3 separate regions of the Homo sapiens genome follow, and regions 1 and 2 are each linked to region 3. Evidence: fine-mapped expression QTL. A gene starts in region 3. Each other region holds a variant in brackets. All regions are shown on one strand. Distances are from middle to middle. Region 1 holds the start of DBH (dopamine beta-hydroxylase). Region 2 holds the start of DBH-AS1 (DBH antisense RNA 1). Region 3 holds the start of FAM163B (family with sequence similarity 163 member B).

The links. PIP is the estimated chance that this variant, and not a neighbour inherited with it, causes the effect.
Region 1: its variant is fine-mapped to the expression of FAM163B in liver (GTEx, PIP above 0.99).
Region 2: its variant is fine-mapped to the expression of FAM163B in cerebellum (GTEx, PIP above 0.99). The same link has a PIP of 0.9 or more in cerebellar hemisphere.

Annotation. Positions count from the first base shown.
Region 1 is chr9:133,630,225-133,639,798 of GRCh38, reverse strand. It overlaps DBH (dopamine beta-hydroxylase), which reads right to left and starts at 3,436. Exons shown (of 12, transcript NM_000787.4): 1 at 3,089-3,436. The coding sequence starts at 3,427. RefSeq lists an enhancer at 1,436-2,171. The variant A/G (reference allele first, on the strand shown) is at 4,406.
Region 2 is chr9:133,651,292-133,660,983 of GRCh38, reverse strand. It overlaps DBH (dopamine beta-hydroxylase), which reads right to left. Exons shown (of 12, transcript NM_000787.4): 7 at 9,207-9,350; 8 at 8,700-8,738; 9 at 7,985-8,044; 10 at 4,334-4,461; 11 at 3,755-3,914; 12 at 1,655-2,668. The coding sequence ends at 2,537. DBH-AS1 (DBH antisense RNA 1) reads left to right here and starts at 3,576. Exons shown (of 2, transcript NR_102735.1): 1 at 3,576-3,857; 2 at 4,447-6,397. It also overlaps a transcript of SARDH not described here. RefSeq lists an enhancer at 5,702-6,501. The variant A/G (reference allele first, on the strand shown) is at 5,444.
Region 3 is chr9:133,603,915-133,613,606 of GRCh38, reverse strand. FAM163B (family with sequence similarity 163 member B) reads left to right here and starts at 4,218. Exons shown (of 3, transcript NM_001080515.3): 1 at 4,218-4,530.

The DNA of each region.
Region 1 (9,574 bases), 26 kb before region 3:
CCAATCCACAGGGGAAGAGGGCATTCCCCGGCAGAGCTCCGCATTCATTGCCAGCTGATCTGGGGATGCTGGGCCTCAGTCCCTGTGGATCTGAGGGTTCTGCCTGGGGCTGTGGCTTCACTCACACCTTCTATCTCCATTTCTGCCTGGAGACAGTGGAGATGAGCCCCGACAGTGGAGTTGGTTCCTCCTCTGCAGCCAGGAACCAGGGCTGTCACTTGCCAGCAGGTCACAGGTTCTGTTAGCCATGGGCATTCCCGGGCCTGGCGGGCGGGACACTGAGCTTCTTAAGAAGATGCCTGAGGCTCCCAAGGCCTCCTCAAGACTGGGAACAATGCCTCAGACCAATGCTGCCCACATTCATGCAGGCAGGAGAGTTGCGGAGCCTCAGAAAGGGGAGAGTTGGGAACAGGGTGGGACATGAACAGGAAAGGAGAGAGAAACCAGGGTGCCACATCTAAGATGGTGATTGATAGCAGGTGCCCACCCTGCACTGGCACAACCCTGAGAACAAGCACTGCTTTATTACTTTATAAATACATGTAATTTTGGATTTTTTTTTTTTTTTTTTTGAGATAGGGTCTCGCTATGTTGCCTAGGCTGGTCCTGAACTCCTGGCCTCAAGCGGTCCTCCTGCCTTGCCCTCCCAAAGTGCTGGAATTACAGGCATGAGCCACCACACCCAGCCTGAAGCACCACTTTAAACCCTGCAGCCTAGGCATTGTTCCCCTCACCTTAGTCCCAGCCCTGCTTGGAGAAGGTAAACTGAGGCCCAGGGAGGCATTGGACCTGCTGCATTCTCCGAGGATGCTTCCTGGGATCTGGATCAGTGACCTCTGCCCTCCCCGTCTCCGGCCGCTCCCCTTGCACTGGGCCCTAAGGGGCAGGGACACGGTGGCCCGAGGCCAGGTCACATGGAAGACCACCAGGGAGACCCACTGAGAGACAGCGAGGAGCCTTCCCCAACAAGCAGGCTGCCCTTCGTACTCAAGAAGGGCCCTTCTTAGATTCCATATTTGTCTATTTGGCATCTATTAATTGATTGAAGGCTCAAACAGATGGTCAGAGTTGTTTACACCTGTCCTGCCCTCCAACATTCACACGTGTGTGAGAATCATATTCCTAACATTCCGACCCACACCAAGCCCATATCCCTAGCTACCTCCTCCACCTGACTCTCACACCCCAGGCCAATATTGCCCCAACCCTAAAACACCCTAGGGCCAGGAACCAGGCAACTAGAGACCACCCCAGCCACCCAGAGCCCACCAGAATTGTCCAAACGAAGCTGCTTCCCTGCCCTGCCTGGCCTTTCCCATGGAAACCCCAAGAAAGCCTCGGGCCCTTGGCCTTAAGGACTTTGGGTTGTGTTTCTTTTTAATCTTACATTCAGGGTAAAACATCTTTTCTTCATTTCCTTGAGAAAAAAGAAATCTGCAAAAGATACTGCAAAACTTTCCCTAGAGAAAAAAGCCACACAATGCAACCCCGCTGGGGACACCGCTGGTTTGCCGAGAGACTCATTTTAAACAGAGGCAGAAAGTTCGCCTGTGATATTTCAGCTGGAAATCAAGAAGATATTAGTTGAACATATTGCTTAGGGAGGAATAATAAGGCTGACATTTGCTTTCGTAGGAATTTGTTGTGCAAATTAACCTTGCCAGTGCACGGAAAGGCAAAGTCACCTGGCTTCCTCTGGCTTCCCTAGCAGCCGGGAAATGCAGGCAGGGGGGACGCTGCCCCAGAGAGGAGCAAATGCTCCTGCACTCAGGGTGCCTCATGGCAGAGGCTTGCGAAGAACCCCAAACTGTCAGCGATGGGGTTCAGCTGCTCCTCCAGACGGCTGACGGCTCAGAATCAGGGCTGTCCCAGGTCTTTCTTGGCTGGAACCTGAGCCACAGAGTGTCTTTGTGCACAGGAATCTGTGCAGCCCTATGGGTCAGAGCAGGGCCCTTCCCAGGCAGCTCCACTCACCCTACCTGGGTGGCCCTAAGCCTCACTAGCGACACAGGCAAGTGCCTCCTGGCCGAGTCTTGGGAATTGGAGGGGGCAAGCTCAGCTCCAGAAACAGCAGCCACCATCTGCCCTCATGAATTCACAACACCCAAAAAGGCAGAGAGGGACTCTCCGCCCCACCAGCCCATGGTGAGACCAAGATGCAGAGCTGGAGCCGGCCGCTCCGCACAGACACAGCTCCCCCGCTCCAGCTCGGCACTCCCAGATAAAGCAGGCACCTCCTGACTTCAGAAATAAAACTTTTTTGTCACTCCTTTGTGTGTTTCTGTGGAGAGAGTTGGGTTTCATCCACAAAGAAGCCCTGGTGGCCAGTCCCATGTGGAAAGGAAGGCTGGAGCAGGACCCATTGTAGGCGGTGGGCTCGCCCACTTCGGGGACCCCCTGCAGCTTGTGGAAGGGCCTAAAGTCCCCTCCAGTTTGAAGGGAAACTTTTCCCCTTTCTCCACCCTGTGAAACAAGAGTGGAGGTAAATTTGGACGGAAAGGAGTCAAGAGCCCATCCTAACAGTTTTGGCTGAGCCCTGTGGGGCTTGTTCAACACCTATGGGTAGGGGCAGGGTGTCTGCACCTGCTCAGTTGGTCCACGGGTACAAGCACAGTAGGTCAGGCTGGATCCCATGGGTGTGCAGGCCTCATGCTGTGCCCAGCCACGCGCCACCACCTGGCCCACATCAGTGGGCATGTGTGCTCTGGGGACGTGGTACTAGGCATTGTTTACAGGGCCGAGGGTCGTGGGGTCTGTGCTCATGCGCGTGTGGGGTGTGGAGCGGCACGAGTGTGTGTGGTGTGTGCGTCCTCTGTGTATAGTTCCATTCCTTGGGATTACTGGGTCCCATGATTTGGGGCGGGCAGTCAAGGACCATGGAAAGCATGTCTTTCCTATTTTGTCCTCAAACTGAGATCCCCATGATGCCCAAGCTCGGGGTGCAGACTTGGCTCAGAGCAGAGTCAACTCAAACACTGACAGGTGACAGAAGAACTTTCTGGGTTAAGGAGGGTGAGTGCAGAAAGACGGCCAGATGGGGTGCCGGGTCAGGAAGGGTTTGGAGAGCTGGCAGGGAGGAGAGACTCACCGCAAAATAGGCAGTGTCCCCATCGGTCCAGAGCACCACGAGATCTGCGTTCTCAAGCTCGCCACGGTCGGACATCCCAAACAGGACGCCAGCCTTGAGCCTCCGCACCAGGAGCTGGAAATGGATGGCCTCCTGGGTGTAGCTGACATTCCATGAGAGCTCCAGGGACCCCTCCGGGTCCAGGGGGATGTGATAGGGGAGGGGGCTCTCACGGGGAGCCGAGCCCTGCAGTGCGGCCACCAGGATGACCAGGAAGATGGCCACTGCTGTGCTGTACATGAAGGCTGCCTCCCGCATGCTGGGGCCGGGCAGGCTGGCCCAGCGACTGAGGGCGGGCATGGCTGGGGTGAGCTCTCTGGTCCCACCTGGCCATTTATGCCCTGGTCCTGAATGGGGTGGGTCCAGGCAGCACGGGTAATCACATTTGTCTAGCGGGGAATCCAATTTTCCCTCCCACAAGCTTGCGCCCCAGGCCAAGCACTCAGCCTGCTGCCCTCCTCTAATTGGCACTAATGACACATGGACGTCATCAGTGGGAGTTGAAGTAGACAGGCGGATGCTGTCCCTTCTGAGATGGCTCTGAAGAGCTGTCCCAAAAGCAGATGCACCCTGCAGCCAAGAGGCCTTTCAGACACCCTCTGGCCAGGCACCAGCTGACTGCCTCACAGGCTGTCTGGCCCAGTCCCCAGTGGGATGGGGTCTGCGTCGCCTCTACCCACGGATGAGCAGACTGAGGTCCGAGGAGCTGCTCCAGGCTGACCAGTGAAGGATAGGCCCGTAGCCACTGCAGGCCTGGCCTAGCGAGCAGAGCCGTTTGTACAATACTAGCAGGTGGGCCCATTTCAAACCAAAAATAAGACAATCTCCAAATAGTCCCTGTGTTTAGACACTCTCTCCACGGCCTGCTCTTCCCACTTTTGTCTCCTCTCAATTTTTCCACAGCCTCCAGCTGGTACCACTGCTGCTCCAGAAGGCGCGAGAGCATCATAGGGAGTGGGGGACATGGGCGTGGGGTGCATTGCTGGGGACAGACGGAGCTGGAGCTGCACAGGGGATAGGCAGGCTGCAGGGTGCACTGCTGGGGGTGACAGCCTTTAAGGAAAAGAGGGTGAGTGACAGGCCTGCTCCCCTGTCTCTGAAGCTCCCAAACCCACAGCTTCCTCTTGCCCAGAGCAGATCTGGCCTGAATTTGAAGCCTCTCAGGGCAGCTGGCCGCAGCCCTGCTTCTCCCACACCTGCCACAGGACCTTTGCCATCATCCACCCGTGGGCCCGAGGGTCAGTCTCACCACGGCACCTCTCCCTCCTGTCCTCTCCC[A/G]CAAGTAGACTGAGGGCAGCTGCCTTCAGGACATTCTGCTTGATCCCTCCAGCTCCACCCCCCAGGCTGGGTTGACAGATCTCTCCAGCTGGACTAGAAGCTGTCCCTCCTCCCCAGCCTCCTCCCTCCCTTCCTTCCTTTTCCCTCCTGTTTCTCGTCTCTCTGGAGAAACCCAGAATCTAGCCTTAGGGGCACATTCATGTCATAGGCTGACAGCAACATTTAGGTCCTTAAATACCCATGACAGCAGGTCTGGAGGCTGCTTCAGCTCTGAGCTCTACGCTGTAGAAAGGAATGACTGTGTCTTTGCACGAACGTGAAATTTGGAGAAAGTGCCAGCCTTCCCCTGGCCCTCGCAGGCAGTGCTCTCTGCCCCACAGTGGCCAGGCCATCCTGCAAAGCCAAGCTCAGGCCATGAGCCCCTCCCCACTGATTGCACCCAGAGGGGCACCGTTCGCCCCCACCCACAGCCCAGGCAGGTGAGGTCCAAGTGCATAATCACCTGTGCAATAGAGTGTGGCATTGGTGTGAAATTGTCTCCCAGGCCAGGGGAAAGACACTCTTGGGAGTTCTCTGGTGAGCCTTGGGAAGGGTCTCAGCCTCCGAAGGCCTGGCTTTCCCATCAGGACATGCCACCTCCGTCGCCTGAGAGCACCTCACCTTCATGCCTCAGATTAGTTCCAAAACCTCCTCACCTGTGCCTTGTAAGCAGGTGTCTGCTGCATCCCGGACATTCACTCTCGGGACTGGGGAGCGGCCACAGCGAGCCGGTGATACGAAGAGCCTCCGGGGTGGGCAGGCACTGGTGTTCCCAGCACGGGATAACAAAAGCCAGCAGAGGCAGAGGTGAGGGTCACGGGCTCCACAGCACACCCAGCTCAGGGGTGAGCCCTCCCAGCAGCCTGGTGGCCACCCAGGTGGCTCCAGCTAGACAACAGGCTAAACGAGCACCAGCTGGGGCCCGCGTTGTGGGAAGGGGGGCACCTCTCTCCCCTCTGGGGTATTGAGGCCCCAGGCACCCCTCCTGCTCCTCCGGGGTCAGAGCTCTGGGGTCATATCCTGCTCCGCCCTCCTGAATGCGCAGCTGGCGTCCTCAGAGAAGCGCTTTCCAACCCAGCGCCTCCTCCCCATCTACAGACACAGGAAGTTGGATGACAAGGACAATTGATCCCTCCAGCTTCCTTCAACCCAGCGGTTCTGTGGAGCGAGAGGCAGTGAAGAGCCCCTGATGCTACCAGCCCTTGGACGGCTCAACACACCTCCAGGCCTCGCTCCTCTCCCGGATACGCCAAAGACCAACAGCTGCTGGGAGCTCTAAGGAGGGACGGCAGGTGCGGTCTCGTGCTCAGCAGTGTTATGCACACATGTTTATTTTTAACAGGAATCAAAGACATTTTCTTTATCCAACTCAAAACTGGCTTTCCTCTAGCATTTGACAGAAATGATTCAGCTGATTCCAAAATACTGATAACTAAGTCCTAGGGAGGGACAGGAGACACAAGTCAGGCCGCACCAGGGCTTCCCCTGCCCTGCCTCCATCCTGGCCAGCCTTGGGTGGCTGGGTGTGCGATCATCCCTGTCTCAGACACAGGAGAGTCAGCCTCGGAGAGGCGAGACAATGCGCCTGAGCTCACAGGGTGGGCCAGTGCCTGGGGCAAGCACCCCAAAGAGGGTGCCCTGAGCTGGAGGGGGCTGCACACCTTGTCAGCCAAGGTCAGAAAAATTCCACTGGAGTCAAGAGGAAGGGACGCTCAAATGAAAAATGCAACCGCAGAGAAAATCTGCGGAGACTGGGGCCGGGCGGGAGGGAGCGAATCCAATCGGATGGCCCCGTGGCTGCGCCCTTCCTTGCATTAATGGATTTTAAAAGGGAGCAATCCGACCCCAGGGTAAGGAAGCAACAGTCAGCTCTCCTCCTGCCCTCACCCTCCTCAGAGGTGACACCTGCTTGCCAGGTGCTCTCTTGGCCACATGCCTCCCTGTGGTGCCCCGCGGGGGGCTTTCCTCCCTGCTCCCACCCCTGCTGCCTCTGCTCCAGTGTCTGGGTGCACGTTGCCCTCCAGAGGTGGCGGTGGGGGTGGGGATGGGAATGGGGGTGGGAGTGGGGTTGGGGGTGGGGTAGGCCGGGGAGGTGCAGGGTGTCACGGCCACGGTGTCAGGAAATAAGCCCCATTCCTGCTGCTCAGCGCCTGGCTTCCCTCCAAGGCGCATCGACGGCTGACCTTGTTTAGAACCAATTTCAGCTTTTTAATAAGCCCTTTGCTTTCCTGAATCTCTCTGATGCCATCAGCCTTTGCAGGCTGTAATTCCCCATCGCCTCTGCCACATGAGGCTGGCTTCTGCTGACGTCCTAACCTCAGGCAGTGACAACCCCAAGTGGAGCGACGGTGGTGCAGACTGGAGCTGGGTGAGTGAACAGGCCAGGCCACTCCCCAGTGACAACGGGGCCTGGCCACAGGACAGCACTGTCCCTCGCCTGTGGCTCAGGCTCTTAGGGACCTCCTCTTGGCAGGAAAAATTCAACTATCAGTCTGATGGCAGTGCCTAGACCTGACTTGTGATGGGATGGATTGGGAGCTGCTGGGAGACGGTGACTCTGTCCATCACAGAGCCCACTCCAGGGTGGCACAGTCCCCTTGGGGAACTTGGGGCAGCTGGCCTATGTCCCTCCTCGTCCTGAGCATAGGGGCTGCGGTATGAAAGTTAAGAGGCACATTCTGGGCTGGGCACAGTGACTCATACCTCTATAATCCCAGGACTTTAGGAGGCAAAGACGGGAGGATTGCTTGAACCCAGGAGTTCGAGACCAGCCTGGGGAACATAGCATGACCCAGTCTCTACCAAAATAAAAATAAAAACAAATTAGCCAGGCATAGTGGCACAAGACTGTAGTCCCAGCTACTCGGGAGGCTGAGGCGGGAGGATCGCTTGAGCCCAGGAGTTTGAGGCTGCAATGAGCCCTGACTACACCACTGCACTCCAGCCTGAATGACAGCGAACAACCCTGTCTCAAAACAAACAAACAAAAAGCATATCCTGCCTGAGGAGGCAGCGGTGGCACCATGCCTCTGCCTCTGCTCATAAGCGTAGGTGGCCGTGAGAGTTTGAATGCTTGGGATATCCCATGGCCTGAGGTGTCCAGGGCCTGGGGCACTGAGTAGGGTGGCTACAGTGGGATCAGCATGAGGACTGGGCCCAGGGCAGGTCACAGAGGTGCCCAGAGCACCACTGAAAGCTTTCCTCAGCTACTGGATTAGAGGCACCCTCTGGCCCTGAAGCTCTGTGCCAAAAGCAAGGGGCCACTGATCCCAGAAGGGGTCGGTATCGTGAGCCCCAGTGACACTCCCCTGGAAGCTCCCAGGGAAGCAGAACCCAGGAGTCTGTGGCTGGCTCCAGGGCTGGGGCTGCCAGGCCTGCCAGGCCACTCCTGTGTGACCCCAAGCAGCCCCACTGTGAGCAAGTCCTCCACTGTCACTGGCAGGCGGCTGGCCTGGGCAGGACACAGCCTCCCCCGCCTCCATCTCTCCTCCATACACAGGGGTCAGCGAGATGGGGAGGTGGACTCTCACACCTGCGTGGCCTGCACCCCCAGCTCTGGGCTCATGCTCACATACTCAGTTTTACACACACACACACACACACACACCCCTCCAATAATTTGGCCTCAATCTTGGGGCTGAGGCCTGCTGGGCCCTGAGGAATCTTACAGGGAAACCCTTTCTGGGTCCTGCTTCTCCTTTTCTCCATAAGGATGCGTGACTGCTCCTCTCTCTTGAGCAGCTCATGGGGGGAGGTGCATGTGCCTGATTTTTGCATTTTCAGCTTTTCTGAAGGGACCACACTGCCAGGATGGTGGTGGGTCCTGAGGCAGTAGCTCCAGACCACACCCAAGCCACAGCGTAACTGTGGGCACCAGATGGAAAGAGAGGCCCTGAAACCTGCCGGCCATGTGACCCACCCGGACAGTCCCCACAGCCCTGAGCCTTCTTTCCTCATCTGTGAAATGGCCATCTTGCTCAGGACCGGCACTGGCGCTGACTTCTGGCTACAGAGGCTGGGCCCTGCGTGGCCTGCACCAGCACTCAGGGCTGCTGGTCTTGCCCCCCGCTGGCTCCTGCCAGCCATGACCCTCTTCCTGAGGCTGTAGTTCATCTGTCAGTAAGCTTGGTCACCTCAGAGATCCACCAGGTTGACCTACCATTGACCCAGAATGGGGCCGATGCAGTGAGGGCTAGCGAGACAGCCCCGGGCTGCCCTCACCCGCATCCATCTCGGGGGCTGCTGCACCCACTGACATCACAGGGTCCAACAGGCAGGGCTCTGGCCCAGGAGGGTCTCGGAGAACATGAGAATCCGCCTCCCTCCCTGGAATCTCTCTGAGCTTCTGGCGTGTGGTGTGACAGACAGAGGGATGTCCCCCAATGGCCACGTCCAGATCCCTGCAAGTCGGGTAGGCTACCTGGGGAAGGGACATTCAGTGTGATTAGATTAAGGACCCGGAGGTGGGAGGTGGTCTTGGATTGGCTGGGTGGACCCCATGTCATCACAAAGGTCCTACGAGAGAGAGAAGGAGATGCATTGATGGGGTCCAAGGAGAGGAGGCTGCTTCCAAGACGGAGCAGGGGCCATGAGCCAAGGGATGTGGAGGCCTCTGGTAGCTGGAAAAGGTGGGAACAGATTCCCCTCCCAGAGCCCCCAAAAGGAGCCAGCTCTGCAGACACCTTGATTTTAGAGCTTCTGACCTCCAGAACTGTAAAAAAAAAAAATCGTGTTGTTTTAAGCCTCAGAGTTTTTGGTCATTTGTTACAGTGGCCACAGGAAATACAAGCGCCCTCCTCTCCTAGTGTCTGCTGGCACCGTCACACTCTGGTGGGACCCCCAAGTGCAGTCGGAGACTGTGTTCCCTTCTTTTTGTCCTGTTATGGTTTTGGTTCTCCCAAAAGCAGACGCTGAGGCAAGGGTCTGGATGTGAGCAGGCTGTGTGGAAGGAGAGCTCAGAGTGTGCGGAGACGGGTGGGCAGGGGAGTGGGAACACTCACGAACCGTACTTTCATAATCAGTTTCCTCCATGGGCAGTAGGGACTCAGTTCCAAGGGGACCCTGGAGAGACTGTGGAATGCACCCCAAAACTGTCACATCAAGGGTGAAGAAGCCGGGGCCCTCACCTTC
Region 2 (9,692 bases), 47 kb before region 3:
TGATCCTCGCATCTCAGCCTCCCAAAGTGCTGGGATTACAGGCATGAGCCACAGCACCCGACCTTGTATCATTTTAATTAATTTAAAATTAATCGTAAGTAGCCACATGAGGCTAGCAGCCACCAGAAAGCACAGCCCTGGTGTGCTCTGGGACCCAGTCGGGCAGGCACCCCTATGCTGGCTGGAGCCTGGGGTCGCCCCACTTCTCTCAACACTGATGGGCATGAGCATTCCTCACCCCAGGGCTCTGAGCACCTCACAGATGGGGGGTTGTGCCACCCTAGCAGTCCCTGCCCCCTGGGAGGCTGGGGAACCCTCTCCTCGGTGGGCAGATAGGGAGACCCAAGCCTAGGGAAGGAAAGTAACTAACTCAGGGTCACACAGCAGGGGCAGGAATAGCAACCTGGGCTGCTGGACTCACACCCCAATCATTCGGAAGGTGGGCGAGCCCAGAGTCCCTTTGGCTTGGGGCATGTAGGTCATTTTCAGGTAACAAAGCACTTCCCCTAAGCCTCTAAATAAGGAACTTATTTTAGATAAAATCCCCCACAAGGGTCCTGGGGAAATTCCTGTTTCCTAAGTAAGCAGAGGTTGAGCATTCAGACACTGGAGTCAGACCTGGGGACACTTCGAGCTCCCCGGCTTACTCTGGGTGACCTTGGCACCTAACTTTAGGTCTCTGAGCCTCAGTTTCCTCCTCCATCAATGGAAACAGAAACTACATGGCTTCACGAGATTGCCACGGCTGTGCATAGCCTCAGTGTGGGGCAAGTGGCAACTCTCAGCAACCACGGGGTTACGCTTATCTGGGTGTAGGAGGTGCGGGTACTGCTGGAGCGGGGTAGGGGGGACACGGCTGCTGTCTCTGCAAGAGGAAGAGGATAACCAGCCTGAGAGCAAGAGTGTGAGTGGGGGGTGAGGTGGGGGTGGGGTTGTCGCTGTGGCAGGTTCCAGAGCTGGCTAGGATTCCCAATCACTGCCGCTCTTGGGCCCCAGGTGAGGTACTTATCTGGGAGTCTCAGTTTCCCTGCCCGAGATCGGCAGGCTACAAGTGCCCCCCAGGTGTTTGGGCAGGACCCTGGGACCCTTCTCTGGGCTGGCAATTGGGTGTGATCGCGGGAAGAGGCTTCTTGGGCCTGCTCCGTGTCTACTGTCACCTAGGCTGTAAAGATGACAGAGGGCCGGAGTGGCTCTCCAGGCTGGGGCCTGGCATTTCACAGCGCTAGCGCCGTGACTTATGGACCACAAGAAGCTGTGATTTATACAACGTGAGGCAGAGCTCCTGGGCTCGTGACTTCCCTTCTGTGATGAAGTGAAGTGCCTTGCAGAAGCAGCAGCCGCTTAGCTGATGCGAGGGGACTCCGAGGCCCATCCATCTCCCTCTCTCCCCATGAGGCTGGGCAGCGTTTTGCTGAAGTGGCTGAACACAAGTGCATCTGTTACTGTCTCCAGAAACCATCAAAGAGCTGAACTTGTCCCTGAGAGGCAGCTCAGAGGGCAGGAAGGGGAGACCCACCCAGGCCAGCTGAGGCAGCTTCAGGACGCTCAGGGGGAAGCACTTGGTACCACGCCTGGCACAGGGAGGAGGCTCAGGAGCAAGCTTCTCTCTCCTGGAGCGACGGCCCGGAGTGCAAACATACCCACCTCCAGTGGGTGCCAGCCCAAGTGTGAGCTTTATTGGCTCATTAGCCCGCACGGCATCAGCCTGGTTTTACAGATGAGAAAAGTGAGGGTCAGGAATGTGAAATGGCCCGCCCAAGGCACACTCCCTAAGTGGCAGAACCACGCGGAAAGCACAGCCCTGACTCCACCCCGGTCTGTTCAGCGCTGGCCCCACCGGCAGAGAAGCAAGCTGGTGCTAATAATTCCACCCCACGTGGAACCGGCGCCCAGAAGCCCCGCTGGATCTTTGCCGCCTCGTCTTTTGGTGATAGTTGTTGTCAGGGCTTCCCTTTAGGTGGGCGAAAATATCTGTTTACTCAGGAATGGAGCAATTTCCCAGGCGAGTCTCTAACTAGCTAAATGCCTGGTCCTGCCTCCGTCGCAGGGAAGCCGCCCACTGTGAAACACGAGCCACTCAGCAGGGAAATGTTTAAGCGGCACCCGCACCCGCTGCACACCGGGAGCAGCGGGGCGGGGGCGGGGGCGTTCCCGGTGATTCCACACCCCGGCCCAGCATGGTGCCTGTCCCAGAAGCCAGGCCACACCCAGTGAGGCGGAACAGGGCTGGCGGAGGGCTGGACCCTGGACCACTGTGCAGGCTGTCCCTGCACTGAGTCAGCCGGGTTTAAATGGACGAGGTCGTGGTCCACTCGGTCCAGGGTAGGTCAACAGGGCACCCACACCCTCTCAGCCATGCAGGGGACCCTGGGGGAAGAAGGCTGGATTGGACCGTGGTCTCAGGCAGGGGCGTGGTCTGGCCCCTTCATCCTGGGCGTGCAGGGCTGTTCCATGGGGATCGTCGCAGAGTAGAGTGCACAGTGCCGGTGTGAGCCCACAGGGACAGCATGGAGGAGGGGGAGGAGTAGGTCCCCCCTCAGCCTTTGCCCCCACCAATGCTGACAACGGTGGGGCCAGCAGGGCTTCGGCCCTGGCTGGTGGGGCACTGTGGGGTGGGCTCTTCCAGTGTGGAGATGACCTTGGGCAGGGGCTGCAGGTTCCATTCACCCTGCAAGGAAGGGGGCAGGAGGTAAACTGAGGCTGGAGGGGCAAGATGGGTGGCTGCTTCCCCAGCCACTTCCCAGCCACCTCTTGGATTCTTGCCCTCAAACTCAGCTTGTCTCAAACTGAACTCACTCTGCTCCCCCAAGTTGCTTTTTGGGGGTCCTCACCTCAGTAAATGCCCCCTCCCCTGGCTTCCCATTCACCTAGTCAGGAACCTGGGAGTCATCCAGGCCTCTCCCCGCCTCTGTCCCCACCCAATTTAATCATTCACCCTAGTGTAGCAACCAGAGCCCCTGGCTGCAGGCTCTGATATTTTTTAGCTATCTCTTCCCCTCAAGGCTACACCAAATGCCAAGTTTTCAACCCCATCAGACGTCCACCCCACACTATTCTCAGCAAGCCAGTATTAGCCCTTCCTTCCCTTGGTGCTGAGGATGTTTGACTTAGCAGTTAATCTGGCTCCCAAATGCTTCTGGGAAGGATCTTCCTGGATCTCCAGGCTGCGGCACCTTACGCGACTAACTCTGCATAGGCCCTGGCCTCCTGACCACAGCCCAGTGGGCCCAGGATAAATTAGATGCCTTCGAATACCAGTGGGTCTCAGATAAGGAGGAAAAAACCAGCTCGCAGCTTCAGACTGGTTCGTTTCTTACCTTCCCCTCCCCTGGTGCTTTATTTTTAGGCAGGTTAGTGCGCCCTGCTCACACCACCTGCATTTGGCATTCGGTACAGTGTGGAGGTGTCACCAGAGAGGGTGCCTGCCCTCCCTTCCTTGCCTCGTTATTGGTTCTCTCTCTCTCCCTCTCTCTCTCTCTCTCTCTCCTCTCTCTCTCCTCTCTCCCTCTCCCTCTCTCCCTCTCCCTCTCTCCTCTCTCTCCTCTCTCTCCTCTCTCTCCTCTCTCTCCTCTCTCCTCTCTCTCTGCTGGCTGGCTGGCTGTCTAGGCCTATGTGTCACCACCTGGCACTTGCTCTCATTGTCTTGTGCGAGTGCTTTTGCCAGCAGTTTGGAGTGCAGACCCATCACCCCTCACTGGGGCCCCCCATGAGGCCTGCCTGACTGCATGCCCCACCCGGGCCCATGGCAGCGCACCTGGAAGCGGACGGCTGAGGACTTGTTGCAGTGCATGGAGATGGGCGCGAAGCTGTACAGGGCCTTCAGTACGTCGCGGTTGAAGGAGTTCCAGGGAACAGAGGTGAACTGCTGAGACACGGACGCCTGAGGGCAGGTGCAGACATCCTCGTTGTTGAACCTGGTGGGGACAAGGAACAGCCAGGCTGGGGAGCAGCTGACGGGCAGGGAGCCCAGTGGGCACCAGCAACACCTCCCTGCAACTCGAGTCCTGTCCCTGGGGCAACCGTCCTGCCACCTCCTCCCCAGCCCCGCTGCCTCCGCCAGGCCACCCCAGATGCTGCCTTCACCGGCAACGGCCTCACCTCTCCTGTCACCTTGGCGGGTGGGTAATGGCTGCTGCAGGCTGGGTTGAGGAGGCTCTGAAGCCAAATCCAGACTCAGCAGGAAACGAGTGAGGGGAGGGGTGAGTGATGCCGCCACAGGTCTCTGCTCCTAGAACTTAGCCTGGACTCCTCCAATCTGCCCAGCCGCCTAACAGGCCCGAGGTTCTGTGTCGGGGTTCCCTGGGGGCAGGGAGCTTGTGCAGGGAGCCCTCACCTGTTGATGAGGTGGAAGTACTTCTGCAGGAAGCCGGCGTCCACAGCGCTCTTGCAGAGCTCCAGCTGCGTCTGGGGGTAGTAGTGCACGTAGTTGACACACATCTCCTCCAGGATCCCGAAGCCCCCCTGCAAGTTGGAGGAGACCCGTCAGCCCCGGGCCATGCCACGCAGACGCTGCCATCCAGCAGCTTTCGCCGCACCCACGTGTACACTGCGTCCACTCGTCTGTTCACTGCACCGTGCCAGGCATGCTCTGGGGAACCGAGTCCCTGCCCTCAAGGAATTGCCACCATTGGCAGGAGAGACAGGCAGTGAGTGAGTGAGTCAACCAGGAAATTCGTATCAGGTACTGATGATGCTGTGAGGAAAAATGAAACGGGACAAGCGGATGGGGTGTTATTGTGCCCATTTTATGGGTACAGAAACTGAGTCTCAGAGCAGGCAAGGGGATGCCCCGTGGTGGCCACAGCATCGGTGGCACAGCCTGAGTGCACCCAGCGTCCCGGCCATTGTCTGGAAGCTGTCCCCATGACCTCCAGCGAGAGCCTGGAGCCAAGGACTGCAAGGGAGGCCCTTTCCACTGCAGCCCCGCACCGTCCACCAGTCATTTCTCCAACGTGGCTCTGAGGGGAGCAGGGACTCTATAAGACAGGACCGTGACTAGAGGCCGCGACAACCTCCAGCCTCTCACGGCAACCCTACGGCCTGCCATCGCATGGGAGGGGCAGGGCAGGCACCCTCTGAGTCCCCACTGCCAGCTTTAAGCCCCTCGCTGGGTTGCTGCTCTTGGAGCTGGTGACCGTGGAGCCTCAGCCATAGGAGGAAGAACAGCAGCAGCTTGGAGGAGCTGGGGCTGGAGAGAGCAAAGCTCCCCCGGCAGCAGCTCAGATCCCAGCAGGTCAGGGGCCGGGACATGACGCCCTGGCCACCCTTGCCCCTCCAGGCTCCCCGCTGTTTGTGAAGCTGCTGTGGGCCTGGGGATTTCATCTGGCTGGTGGGGAAGAAAGGCAATCTTTACTCTATGGCAGAACAAAGGGACTGGGCAAAGCTTGGCGTGGCACTTACACCAGCTGCCGCCCCCTCCTCCCGTGCAGACAAAGAGCATGGG[A/G]CAGTTCTGCCCAGAGACGAAACCTGGCACCTGTTGGCCAGGACGCGTTTTTGCCAGCATTGTTCTCTGGGCCGGATTCCTCCTTTCCCAGCTTTTCTCATCCATCCCGCCCCCGTCAGATCGGGACGATTGCCCTCCTGTGTGAGTTCCTGTCCCTCCCCACCCTCTGCCACCACAGACATCAAAAGGGAACTGAGTCCGACCCTGTGTAGAATCTGTTCTCCTCTTTCACCTGGGGAAGGAAATCGAATTTCAAAGGCCACTGTGTCTTGGATCAGCAGGCGAGGGCTTGTCAGAGTGTGAGAAGCTCAGGTCCACCTGGGGAGCTGCCCTCCCCTTTGATCCCACCTGGTGCTGTGATGTGGCCACTGCCAAGAGGACGACATGGGCCAGGGAAGCCACAGAACTGCCCACGGGGACGCTGGCACCGAGGGCCTCAACCTGCAGAACGGCCATCTGAGATGTCCGCGGTGCTCACCAGGCCTGGCAGCCCCGAACGCCCTGGGACGTGGCGTCAGTTCCGCCGCCGTGAAGCCAGATTGGGCAGGGAATATGCAGTCTCCTCGCTGGATGCCCGGCAAGACCCTCCCATCCCTGGCCCCGGGGCCGCGCCTGCAGAATGGGGCTGATGGTGGGGACTTGCCTGGGGTGCTCCACCTGCAGAGCCCTCTGTTTGCGAGCCCACTCAGTCACTGCACAGGTGCTTAGCCGAGAGGCGGCACAGTCGGGGTTGGCACCTGCACCCATACCAGCCCTGCCTCCTGTTCGCTGTGTGGCCTGAGTGGCTGGACCTCACTGTATCTCCTGGTGGGATTGCTCAGAGGTCTCAGCAAGGCTTGGTGTGGTTAGGATGAGTTATTAGAGCAGTGCTGAGCTGTGGCAAGCACCCGACATCAGCCACTGCTGTGATATACTGAGCACCTCCTCTAGAGAGAATAAAGGACTGACAAAGCTGTCCTGTCTCCACCCTGAGTTTGTGATCAGGAACCTAGGACACTTGTCACCTGAAATCCAAGGGAGACAGGAAGGGTGGGGTAACAGCTGTGAGGCACAAGACCCTGGGTCAAATCCCAGCTCAGCCATCTATCAGCTGTGTGACTTTGGTCAAGTGCCTGCCCTCTCTGAGCCTTTATGTCTCACCTGTGAAAATACAAACACTGGCTGGGTGCTATGGCTCATGCCTGTAATCCCAGCATGAGGGATTACATGAGGAGTTTGAGACCAGCCTGGCCAACATGGTGAAAATCCATCTCTACTAAAAATACAAAAATTAGCCAGGCGTGGTGGTGGGTGCCTGTAGTCCCAGCTATTCAGGAGGCTGAGGCAGGAGAATCGGTTGAACTCGGGAGGTGGAGGTTGCAGCAAGCTGAGAACACACAGCCTGGGTGACAGAGCGAGACTCCGTCTCAAAAAAAAATAAAATATAAAATAAAATAAAATAAACCACTGGCAGTCTGGGCTCAGTAAACATCAGGTGAATCCACATTGGATTAAAACACAAAGAATAGGGCTGTGACATGGACCTGAGTTCCTGGCGCTGAGGGATGTCAGGGTAGCTGTAACCCAGGTCTGCTCCACTTGAGCCACACAATTCACAGGATAATTATTGGAGACCACCATGGTTACCGAAGCAGCTGGCACGGATCCACTGGCAAGGTGGCCCATTTGCCAGGACAGCCCTGGCTTGTGCCTGGGACCCAGGTAATTGTGAACAGCATCCCCTTTGGCTCCCGGAAGCAGCCCCGCTGCGTGATGCATCACGTGGCTGCCCGTGTCCTGGTGCTGCCTGCATACCCAGCCTTGAAAATAGATCTCTCCAGTGCAGATTCTCCTTGAACTGTCTGCAGTCCAGCCAAAATGCATCCTCAGCTGACGCTCATCCTGCCTGACCCCCACCCATGTCTCCACCCTCTCCTCCTCTCCTTTCCATCCTGAGAATGTTCTTGGTCCTCTGGGCCTTCCCGCACGCAGCCCCTGCACAGAGCCTTCCTTCACCTCCTCCCCTCTCCCCTGGGCTCCATGTGACAGCCACATTTCTGACAAGGCCCTCCCAGGTCCCCGCACCTCTGCCTCCTCAACCTGGTTTTTAAAGTTTTGTTTTGTAATTTTGCTTGTTGTTAGCAGCAGGTGCTCCAGGCCTGTCTCCCTGGTGCACCTTGAGCTCCACGGGGCAAAGGTCAACCTCTTGTCCTACAGCTTCTCCCCACACCAGCCCCGGGTGCTGAGAAGCTTCTTGGTGTGAGTGCTTCTCAACCTTGAGCAGGGGTCAACATCCGCTGGGAGCTTGTTAAAACATGGATTGCCCGATGCCACCGCCTGTGTCTCTGACTCAGTGGGCCTGGGGTGGCACCCAGGAGGTTGCATTCATCCCAAGCTCCCTGGTGATGCTGCCACTGTGGTTCAGGGAGCTGAGAACGACTGGCTTATTGAGGGGACGAGCCCATGCCCTAAGTGAGGAGTCAAGACCTGTCATCCTTCCTCAGATGGCTCAGGCTGAACACTCGCCCTGGGCAGGTGCAGGGGGAAGCGGGGGTGACTTACCACTGTGGCCAGCTCCCGGTCTTCTGTGTTGTACGTGCAGGAGGTGATGAGCACATCTCCCTGAGGAAAAGCCAATGTGACCATCAGCACCTGCCACCTGGCGTTGGCAGGTGCTGGAGGCCTCGCCCCCATAGGACCACGCCACTGTGCATGCCACGGCACCTCTGGGGTACAGTCCCTGTCGTCCACTACAAGGAGCCCAGCAGATTCATGTGCGAAGGTCACAGGCTGAGTGTTCCCGAGCAAGTTATAAACCATCAGCTCCTGTGACCCAGTGGGTCACAACAGGGCCAGGGCCCAGGCCAGTGGGGGTGCAGCTGGTGGGCCATGACACATCTCAAAGGACTTGGGCAAGTCCCCACCGAGGCCTGGGCTTGGCCCTCTGTGGGATCAGGGCTCCACTGCCTGCCTTAGTGCCCTCATCTCCCCCAAACACTCTCGGGTTTGTGGTCGGCCCATCAGACTGAGGACACGCGTCCCCTGGGAGTGTCCTGTCTGCTCCACTCTTTCCAACGTCTCTCCATGAACTCCTGAGTGAGTCTCCCCATGAGGTAGCCCAGCCCAGAGCCACCCACAGGCACCCTCCCCCTGCCCTGGATGGCTCTCCCTCCCCCTATCACTTTCTGTGTCCCTCTCCTTCTGGTGGCACCCCCAGCCCTCTCAGCCACCCCAGCTGGTGGCAGTGAGTGGGACAGCCTTCCCGCTGGGCACTCACCGGATGGACCGACACGACCTTCTTCAACATGCGGATCTCCTGGGGCAGGCAGAGCCGAGGGGTGGGGGAGAGGAGACCTCAGAGAGCTGCAGACCAGACCCCCGGCCACTGTGTCCTCCCTCAGGCCTCCCTGACCTCTGGGGGTGTCCATTTTGCCCCAGCCTCTACAGTGGAAGCCAGAGCCCGCTAAGTGTGGCTTCTGGCCAGGGAGGGCATTAGATTCAAACCAGAAGGTGGTTATCCAAGACCAAGATTGATGTTCCCAGAGGGCCGCCTGGGTCTCCCGAATCCCACCACCATCTGCCATGTGCCAGAGGCCTCCCTACGATCAGACACCAGACACCCAAGTGGGGAGCACAGGCCACATGGGTGGGGGGCGGGTGGGGCTGGCCCAGGAAAAAGAAGCCAGCCTGGAGCCATCCCTATGGTGTCAGGAAACAGTAGACCCAGGAGGTCGTGTGGTGGCAGGGTGTGGGGGCGGGGCAGGGGTGGGGTGCAGGTTCCTACCTGGAAGTGAGGGCTGTAGTGATTGTCCTGGTTCACGATCTCCCACTCCCGGCCGTCCCGGACCAGCACTGTGACCACCTTTCTCCCAGTCAGGTGTGTGTGGAGCTGAGAGGCGAAGATGTGGATCCCGGAGGGAGGCAGTGCCTGTGGGGTCGGGGGGCTGCAGTGTCAGGGCCTGACCCCCGAGGGGACCCTCCCGTCCATGGCCAGGACCCGGTAGGGAGCAGCCACCCTGGGCAGTTTGCTTCCCTGGAACACTTGCATTTTCTAGGTCTTTCTCCCCGGCCAGGTTAGAGCCACCATCAGAAACCTCACGGGGAAGAGCGAGGGGGCCGCAACAGCCCCCAGCTCCCAAAGAAGCAGCCCCTAGTCCCACTCAGGAGCGACTTTCTTTCCGAGTCCTTCATCCTCTCCTGAGCCCCTGAAGCCTGACAGGTTCATCTTCACTCAGTCAACAGGCCTTTAAGGCGAGCCTCCCGTGGACAG
Region 3 (9,692 bases):
CCTCCCACTCTGTCCGCTGGCACACTCTGCTGCCCGACCCTCTCACCTTCTCTTGCACACTTTGGTACCTCGTCATTCTCCTGGTCCCATCTAAAAGACGTCCAATCTAACAGACCCAGGATGCGAGGCACACTCTGCCTATTCGGCATCACAGAGTAATCACAGTGACTTGCAGTTACCCATCTCTCAATAGTTTCTTTTTAAAAAGTTCATCTCTTCTCTAAATGGGCTTGATCTTGACCTGCACAGATCATCTGGAGTTGAGTGGACACAGGTTCAGTGAAAACGGATCAAAGGGGCTGTTGCTGGGCTCAGTCAATCAACTGCAGAACGTCTTATGGCTGCAGGCTAAGAAGAGGAAACAATTCAACGACCAAACAAAGGTTAATCTAGTAACTGCGGCAAGGCCCAGGTAATTTCCATAAATATGTGGAAACAGCAACCACTTCAATAGTTTGGCCTGGCACCAATATGAGGAGGAGCTTGGAAAACCGGACGTGGACCCCCTTTCAGTGCCCTGAGATCCATCGAGCAGCTGAATGGAGGTCGGTGCTGGGGGCCAGGGGGCACCCACACAGACCAGTGAGCAGCTGCCCCTTCTGGAATCTCACAGACTTCTAACACCGAGGGGTCCCCGGGTGCCAGCTGTGCTGCAAGTGGACAGCCAGCCTCTGCTCAGACATGTCTGGAGATGGCGAGCTCCTCCCTTCCAGAGGGTTCCCAGAAAGGGAATAGGAGAAGCTCTTGGCCATCATTCTCATTACTCTCCACATCCTGGCAGAAACTTTATTCCTCGAGCACTTTGTTCTTTCTGCCTCTGTAGAATGAGACTCAGCCATCAACAGCAGCTGCTCACATCCTTTGTTCCCAAGAACGTCGTTCCCTCCATTCGAGTGTGCAGGGGACTGTGCATGGGGGTGCAGGTGTGATTGGAATGTCAGGGTTTCCCCGCCACCGCTGGTTTTGTTTTTTCCTCTATATCCAGCCAATGAGCACCTCTTGTGCACATATAGATCCTCAGAGAGAAAGAAAGCCTGATGCCTCTTCTTCATGAGGCTGTAAGTCTTTGAGCAATGAGGCTATCCAACTCGACTCCAAGAAACGGATGCGCACAGAGGTCCTGCTTGTATAGTGTCAGGCTGATCTTACGCAAGCCCCATTTGCCCTAAGTGGAAAATGAACCTTTGTAAACTGCCACCCATGAACCAATGTGTTGGGAGGTGTTCAACCAACTTGGCCATCTGTTGAATTTGAGTTATATCCACGAAGCTCTGTTGTGGAATGATGCTGGTGGTGGGGACAGAGTAGCTGCCGTTGGCTGAGGTTGCCACGCGACTAAACAGCTTATTGTAGTGGATGGAGAACCAGTCCGGCGGCAGAATGTCACTCCTCCCACCCCCGGGCCTGTTTTTGGCCAACCTAAAAGAACTGCGTGTAACTAGGATCCTTTTTTTTGCACGCACCAGGAGAACTTGCTATTTAGGGAATCCTGATGATGAATTGTTTTTATAAAGTCAGACCAGAGACTCTTCCTTGTCTTTCTCTCCCCTCACCCATTTTTATTTTCTGAAATTGGTTTTTGCTTAAAATCAGGGCATGCTTTTGCACATAAATAATGAGTTTGGTGGTGACCATCTGGCATTGCGATCCAAATGAAATCTATTCAGTGTAGTCACCTCTTTGCTGGCTGTGTGACCTTGGCCAAGTCACTTCACCCCTTTGTTACCATCTGTAAAGCGAGGGCAATGCAGGCATCTACTGTACATATTGTGGGTAATATTCAGACCTCTTTCAAATAAAATGGGCTCCATTTTAAATAAGGTTTCGTCATCACGGGCATCAGGAACACATCTCTCTCCACAGCATGGGAAAGAAACCAGCATGTCAAGAGGCCAAGAGCTACAGAGTCTGAGCTGGTTCCACAGAGGTTTCCAGCTGCTCAGATCTATAGCTGCAGGATTCTGCAGAGTTTGAGTAAAAAGTCAGCATGGGGAGAAGTGGAAGGGCATTGAGCTGGTTGGTAAAGACAGGGCTTGGCAGTGATGTTGCTTTTAAAATTCTTGGCACACACTTGCAACTCTCAAATAAAAAACAAGTTGCTCAGTTGTCATAATGGAGTTTTTGACTAAAAGTGATGATTTAAAGGATTCCTGTGTCAACTCCTAGGACATCGATTGGCTGGCTGGTTTGTCTCTTCCTCCTGGCTCTCTCTCTTTCTGCCTTTCTCTCTCTCTCCTTATAAGGAATTTCTATCCGTGTTTACCATCCTTCTTTCTAGGTGGGGCTGGTTGGGAAGGATGTAGAAGTTCTAGAAGAAGGGGATTAGGAGCAATGGCTTGGGAATCAGGCCGATCCGCCTCAGGTCTGCTGCTGTTGAGCCTAAAGTTTTCACCTGCAAAGTCAGGGTAATGACAGTATCCATATCTCATCGGATCGCTGAGAAGACTAAATGAGGCAATGCTCGCACTGTGTTTAGCCTTGTGTCTAGCACGCATTAAGCACATAATGAGTGATGTTTATCATGAGACAAGTGCCTGGTGGGAGCAGGTACTACTCGCAGTTAATTAATGAATCAAACACAGCCCCTGGTCCCTTGGGAAATGAAGCAGGTGATGTTTAATTATCCTGCTTGGAAGAGAACAAGATACTCACAGGGGGCAGGGACCAGCTTTTCCCATTAGTTAAGAGGAAGGAGGACTAGCCTGGTTTGCTATAAGAAAACTCTCTATGGTCAAAGTGACCTGATCAGCCTGGAGAAACTCAGCAGGGGCCCTTGCCAGGGGCCCCAGCAGGGGAGGCAGCAGGCTGGACATTTGGAGCATGTCTGTATGGTGTGAACACTCACTCTCTTGTCCATGGGCAAGTTGCTCACCCATCTGTGCTCAGCCCATCTGTAAAAGGGAAATGGACTCCAAGCACTTTACTCTTCTGTTTGTCCTCAGTATTCTCATGTCTAGAATGAAGCAAGGTTATGGTTACTACCAGGATGGAGTTTTTTTATAGAGAACTTAAAGGTTGATCATAATGAAAGCACACATTTAAGGCCAGGCGTGGCAGCTCACACCTGTAATCCCAACACTTTGGGAGGCCGAGGCGGGCAGATCACTTGAGGTCAGGAGTTCGAGACCAGCCTGGCCAACATGACAAAACTCCGTCTCTACTAAAAATACAAAAAGAACAACCTGGGTGTCGTGACGCATGCCTGTAGTCCCAGCTACTCGGGAGGCTGAGGCAGGAGAATCACTTGAACCCAGGAAGTGGAGGTTGCAGTGAGCTGAGATCACGCCACTGCACTCCAGCCCGGGTGACAGAGTGATATGGCTCAAAAAAAAAAAAAAAAAAAAAAAAAAAGCACACATTTATATGGTGCTTTCCCACCAGGCACAGCTCTGAGTGCTGTACATGTTCTAACACAAAAGCCTTCCTAACATTCTTAACACCAGATTTCTCTCCGTTCAGGGTCCCTGCGACCGCAGGCTCAGCTCGAGGACCTGCAGAAACAGGGAAATGCCTCCTGGGGCACTCCTCTCAGGAGTAGGAGCCTTGGGTCAGAAAGGTCTCCCTCGTATCCAGCCCAAATCTGCCTTGCTTTAACGTCTAGCCATTGGTCTTAGCTCTGTGCTTTGGGGTCAGGGAGAAGGGATCTGCTCCCCTTCCCCGTGGATGTGGGAGAGATCCAAAGGCAGCCGCCATGCCCCAAACAGCCACTCACCAGGAGCAGCGTAAGCCTTGCTCCTCCTCTCAGTTGCTCCGGGGTTGCTAACTCAGAGAAGGGAAATAAATAGTAACAAAGGCGAGCATTTATTAAGTACTTATGGTGTGCCGGGCCTCGAAACATCATCGGATTTCATTCTCAGACCAACCCTAAAGGTGCTGGTGTTAACTCCCCATTTTAAAGATAAGAACCAGCCGCTCAACCAGGATAAGGGACTTGCCCTACTGCGGATAAGCAGCAGCTTCGGCCTGACTCCAGATCCCAACGTTGTGGAAGCCGGAACGCCCCGAGAACAGGCGGAGAGCGGAGGGAGCACCGCAGGGCGCCGGCCAGGGTGGGGGCACCCCCAGGCCTCCAGGAGGTCGCGCGTCCCGGGCGAGAGCGGACGAGCCGTCAGCACCAGGGACAGCTCCCCAGGCCGCTCCCGGCATCCCCCGACGACTGCGCGCGCGGGCCGGTGACGCGCGCTCCCCGCCAGGCTCGGGCGCGCGCCCTCCCCGCCAGCGCGCGCCCTGCGCTCGGGACCAGGCTGGAGCCGCGCGTGCAGCTCGCAGGGAGCCAGCCGGGGCGTCCGGAGTCGCGGCCGCAGCGCGGAGCTGGCAGGGGTGCCCGCCTGGGCACGCAGTCGCCTCCCCGGGGGCCTCCCGGGCTTCTCAGCGCCCGCCTCGCCCGCCCAGCCACACCAGGCGCCACCGCCGTGGCCTGGGCATGAGCGGCCGCCGCTAGCTGCGCCCTGCCCGGGTCGGACGCCCGCCCGCCCCGTCACGTGCGCCCAAGTCCTCGCGGCCGGGGCAGCGCGGTTCCCATGCTTCAAGGTAAGGGCCGAGCGGGCCGCGGGTCACGGGGTGTGGGGCAGAAGACGCAGGCTGGAAAGCTCCAGCTAGGTGCCCACTCGTCCAGAGTGCCCACTGCAGCCTGCCCCGGCTGCCTCGCACCAGGTCCCCTGACCCAGCTGGCGTCACCCATCCCCTGGCTTCCACCCTCAAAGCGCATCCCCGAGGAGGAGACTGAGACCCAGGTGGGCACGAGGGCCTAAGGGAGAGGTGGGGGACCCACTTTAGGAAGGGGGGCTTCATTTCCCTCGGAACAGTGGCCTGGGGGCAGGGGGCAGTGGGGAGGGAAAGTTTCCCAGAAGAGCCCTCTGGAAACCTGGCCGCCTTCTCTCCCTGCCAGGAGCTAAGACTTTTTCATTTGCTGAGCTTTGCCTTCTTCCAGAGTCGGTGCTGCATTTTCATCCCATCCCATTCACCCAACACCCACGAGAAAGGGGCATTGGCCCCATTTCACAGATGCAGAAACTGAGTCTCCGAGAGGTTTGGTCTCTTGCCCACGATCACAGAGTGGGGAAGTGGTGGAGATGGCCTCAAACACGCCGGCCTCTGTCACCACCACCTCACACCTTTGTCTGTTAGGAATCTCTGCTTCATTGACAGGTGGGGGGTTGCCTAACTGACACTAGGTTTCCTCAGCCAGAAAAGAAAAGACTCTACACACCAAAAACCCAAGAGATATTCAACATGGGTCCTCAGGGCTCCACTGTCTCACCCCACTCGTGTCCTGTCCTCCCGCAGCCACGGACTGCCTGGGCACAAGTGGTCCTGCCAGTGTGTGTCCCGTAGCAACCCCGATGGCTCTGAGACAAGAAACTCAAGGGTCAAGTTCATGGAACCTTCTGCAGGGTAAGGGGAGTATCCTTGAGGCCTGAGCCCCAGCATTCGTCCTAGCACCTTCCCCAGTAAGCAGGAGCTCAGGAGAGCCAGCGGGCCACCCTGCCAGCCTTCTCCCTTGCATTTCCCTCAGCCCCTGCCAACTCACGCTCTTCAGGGCTTCTGGGGAGAGCAGTAATTACCAACCCCCAAAAAGTTCAGGGTTGCTGGGAAAGCACCTTTGCCCATCTTCCCACCTTCTCCCTCTTATAGAATTGAGAGTGAAGTGGAGGTGACCAGGGCTCTACCCACCTGAGCAGGTGAGAACCAGCACTTCCTGGGCTGGGCAAGGGCTGGTTTTAACTCTTGGTGCACTGACTGCAAGCTTCCTAAACAGCTTAGGTGCTGGCAGCTTGTGAAAAAATCTCACCCTAAGGCTCGGGGGCCCAGGAAATGTGGGGTTTTGTTCATTCGGTCTTGCACTTGCTGGCAGTTTGTTGAGCATCTGCACGATGCTATGAAAAGACCCACAGGGCAGTCTTTGTATCCTGGATCCAGCTGGGTTTTGGTTTCCCTATCAGCTGAGTTTCCAATGGGGCCGGCTTGTCTAGACTCAGCCGGAAAGCTTGGAAATGGCTCCCGAAGGATCTGGGGGTCTGGGAAGGATGCACAGGCTCTCCCAGCCTCAGTGCCCCACTTGCATGGGGAGGGAGTGGGAGCTCCAGGGTGCATTGCTGGACTCTCAGGACGTGCTGACACCACTCAGAATCCTGGCACACAGAGGTGTTGCAGCTTCTCCACCCTCGCCTCTCCAGCAGGTAGGGCAAGGAGCCCCACAGAGCTCCTCCTACCCTTGAGGCTGGAGTCCCCAACACACGTCTGTCATGCCAGTACCATCAGCAAACATGAGCAAGGGCACCTGGGGAAAGGTGGGCACAGATGGAGAAGTCGGGACTCGAGTTCTGTCCACCTTTTTGGGTGACCTTGGGCAAGTCACTTTCCTCTCTAGACCTCAGTCTCCCATGTACAAAATTGTGGGGTGGATCATTTCATGTCCCCCCTCTGAGCCATTACAGCTCTGTTCATCTAAGCCCCGGATGGAGTAGGAAAGCTGGGAGGAGTGCAGTTCCTCCCTTTTTGCCATGGTATTGAGGGAGTGCAGAGCAGTTTTGAAATCTTCGGACTGACCTGAGTCCAAGCCCCCAGTCCGTGCCAACCCTACTCCCTACTCACATGATCACCCCCGTTTTGTATATTTAGGGGCTGGCTCTATATTCCTGACTTTTCTGGTGCTGGTTCTGGGTGAGGCTTCACAGCATGGAGACCCACTCCTGCAGTGAGACCTCTGGCTCCTGCCACGTGGGCCTGCCTCTGCAGCCTCATGGCAGCGGGCTCCAGCGAGGAATAATTACAGCACTCGGGAGGGGAGAGATGTATTACATCTCAGTCAATTACCTCTGACTCTAAACTCTCGGGGCAGGAGGGGAGGCAGAGCAGCAGCCGAGCCCTTGTTCTGTCCTCCACTCCGCTCCTGGCCCTACCGCCACTTCCCTCTTCAGAGTAGCAAGTCCTGATCTGTGTGTTGGTAAAATGGCAATTTGTGTGGCAGAGAGAGTGGTTTCCAGGCCAGACCACGGGTGCATCATTCCGCATCCCCATCTGCAAAAATGAGGGTGCTCCTGCCTTCCCTGCTGGCACATGGGACACCGGGGCAACCGTGAGCCTGGCCAAAAGGCTTTTGGATGCCAAGAGCATGTGGTCCTGGGGACCACCCTACAGAGGCCAGGGTGGGGCTGGGGGGCTTCTCTGCCAGCTGCTGCCACACTTGGCACTGGTACTTCTTGCAGTGTCTCAGTCTTTCTGGATCTGCTCCAGAGGGGATTTGATGAGTTCCGAGGCCTCAGTGTTTGCCAGCTCCCTCCCTCCGTTGCTGAATCCTCCCGCAGGCCTTGGCCCAATCCCCGCTTGCTGGGGGTTGCTGGAGAGGGGAAGGAATCCTGTTGCCCCTGGGGTGAAGTGGGCTGGTGGAGGTAGAGTTGAAAGCCCAGCTTTGCTGCTTTCTGGCTGTGGAACCCTGGGCCTGAAGGTCTTGGGCTGGAAAATGGAGACTGTGCCTCCTCCTTCCCTCGGGCCTCATCAGTGAAGGAGGAGGCTGGAGAGTCAGGTGGGGTCCGGTTCCGCCAGGCTTGTAAGCCCTGCTCAGTGGTTGGGCTTTCCGCCGCAGTCCACAGGAACCAGGCTCTGGGAGCCCGGAGGGACATGGTTCGCTCTGCCCTTTAGGGACCCTCTCTGGCTGCACCATGGGGAATGACTTGGAGAGGGGGCCCTGCAGGCAGGAAGCTGGGGAGGAAGGGAAATGATGGAGGCCTGGACCAGGGTGGTAAGAAGAGGGCAAGTGACAAGCATGTTGAGGGCTGGATGTTTGTGTTGGGGTGATGGGAGACGGCCTGAGACTGCCCAAATGTCACTCCTATACCACTCCCTTAAGTCAGGCTCAGGCAGCGCCGGACGCTCGGGATGGGCCGCACGTAGGCAGTGAGGTTGCGGCCCCGGGGCCCTGGGGGAGGACTGTTGTTTCAGCAGCAGCTCAGTGTCAGAGCCATCATCCCACTGGGCTGGATGTTACCGCCTGTGCTCTGGGCGCTCTCAGCCCTCGGGGAGCCGTCCGTGCCTGTGGGAGTGGGTCCCTGCCGGACCGAGCTAGTCACCTCTGCCCTTGAGCTCAGTTTTCCCAGGTGGCAGAGGTGGAAGAAGGCTGCACCAGCTAGGGAGCTCCGGTGGAGGCTGGGCAGGGACTGGGACAGAGACCCCAAAACAAACCAGGCTCCCAGGGCTGCCACCTCGTCCACCACATTCCCTGGCTACTGAGGGTGGCAGTGTGGCTGAGTGGACAAGAGCACAGCTTCTGTAGCTCAGCAGAGCCGTGTTTCCATCCAAGCTATGCGTCCCTCGTGAGGTTACTCAGCCTCTCTGGGCCCCAGGTTCTTCATTCATAAAATGGCAATCATTACATCCGCCTCTGATGTGCCAGCTTACCTCCCAGCCAGCAGACTGGGAGAAGAGCCCTAGCGAAAACCTCTTCCAGGCCAGCTCCACCCCACGCAGCCCCGACCCGTGCTCACTTCCTGGCTCTGCCGTAAGGTGGCCTCGGGGCCCACAGGCCTCGGTCTGCACCTGGCAAGCAGGCAAACCCCACATCGTGGGGCAGCCTTGGCTCCTGACCTCAGTGTTCACACACAGGCAGGATCATCGCCACCTCCATCTCCGTTCCTCACGAGGAGGTCCACAGTTTCTGTGTGCAACAGGCTGGCCCTGTCTGGGAGCTGGGCCTGCTGGCAGGTCCCGGGTCTCTGGAGAACCGTCCTCTCTCTTTTGAAATCATCCTAATTTGCATTTGCTGTATCTGGCTGCACTACCTTATAGACATCAATCTGAAATCGTGCTACTCCAGATGGGGTTCGGGGACCAGCAGCAGCAGCAGCAGCATCCCTAGGAACCCGTGAGAAATGCAGGTTCCCAGGCCCCCAGACCTGTTGTAACCGGCCCCCAGGTGATTCCTGTGTTCCGTGGAGTTTGAGACTCACCGCCCACCACGGCAGAAAAGAGGTTCTATTTGCATAAAGCAAGGGTGACTGTCTCCTTCATGCTCCTTATATATTTAACTTCATATATTAAAGGGTGTTTGAATAAAAGAAATACATGCTTGCAGTAAGAGAAAAACCAAGCTATTCAGCTTTTGTTGGTTGGTTGGTTGGCTGGTTTTTTACAAAGTAAAAGCCCCCGGTTTCCTGGGTGTGGCCTGCCCCCCAGTGCTCGGCTGTGTCAGTGACGTGTGTGTCAGCCACACTGGGCACCACCGAGAGACCAGTCTGTGTGTGTTGTTCCCTGTCCTTTTGACTTAACAGGTCTTGGTTGTGTCTGCATGTCGACACCCTAGTCTGTCATTGATTTACCTGGACCCATATCAGTAAACAGTCATGTAGGCCATCCACAGGTTTTATTTTTTGTGTGTGTTCATTTTATATACTTGTTCACTCAAGTAATCACTCCAGGGAAGGATTTCATAGTTGGATGAGGGATGTGCAGTGTGAATAGAAATAAATAGGCCAGGCGCAGTGGCCCATGCCTATAATCCCAGCACTTTGGGAGGCTAAGGCAGGCGGATTACTTGAGGTCAGGAGTTTGAGACCAGCCTGGCCAACATGGTGAAACCCCATCTCTAATAAAAATACAAAAAAGAGAGCCGGGCGTGGTGGCATGCGCCTGTAATCCCAGCTACTCGGGAGGCTGAGGCATGAGAATTGCTTGAACCTGGAAGGCGGAGGTTACAG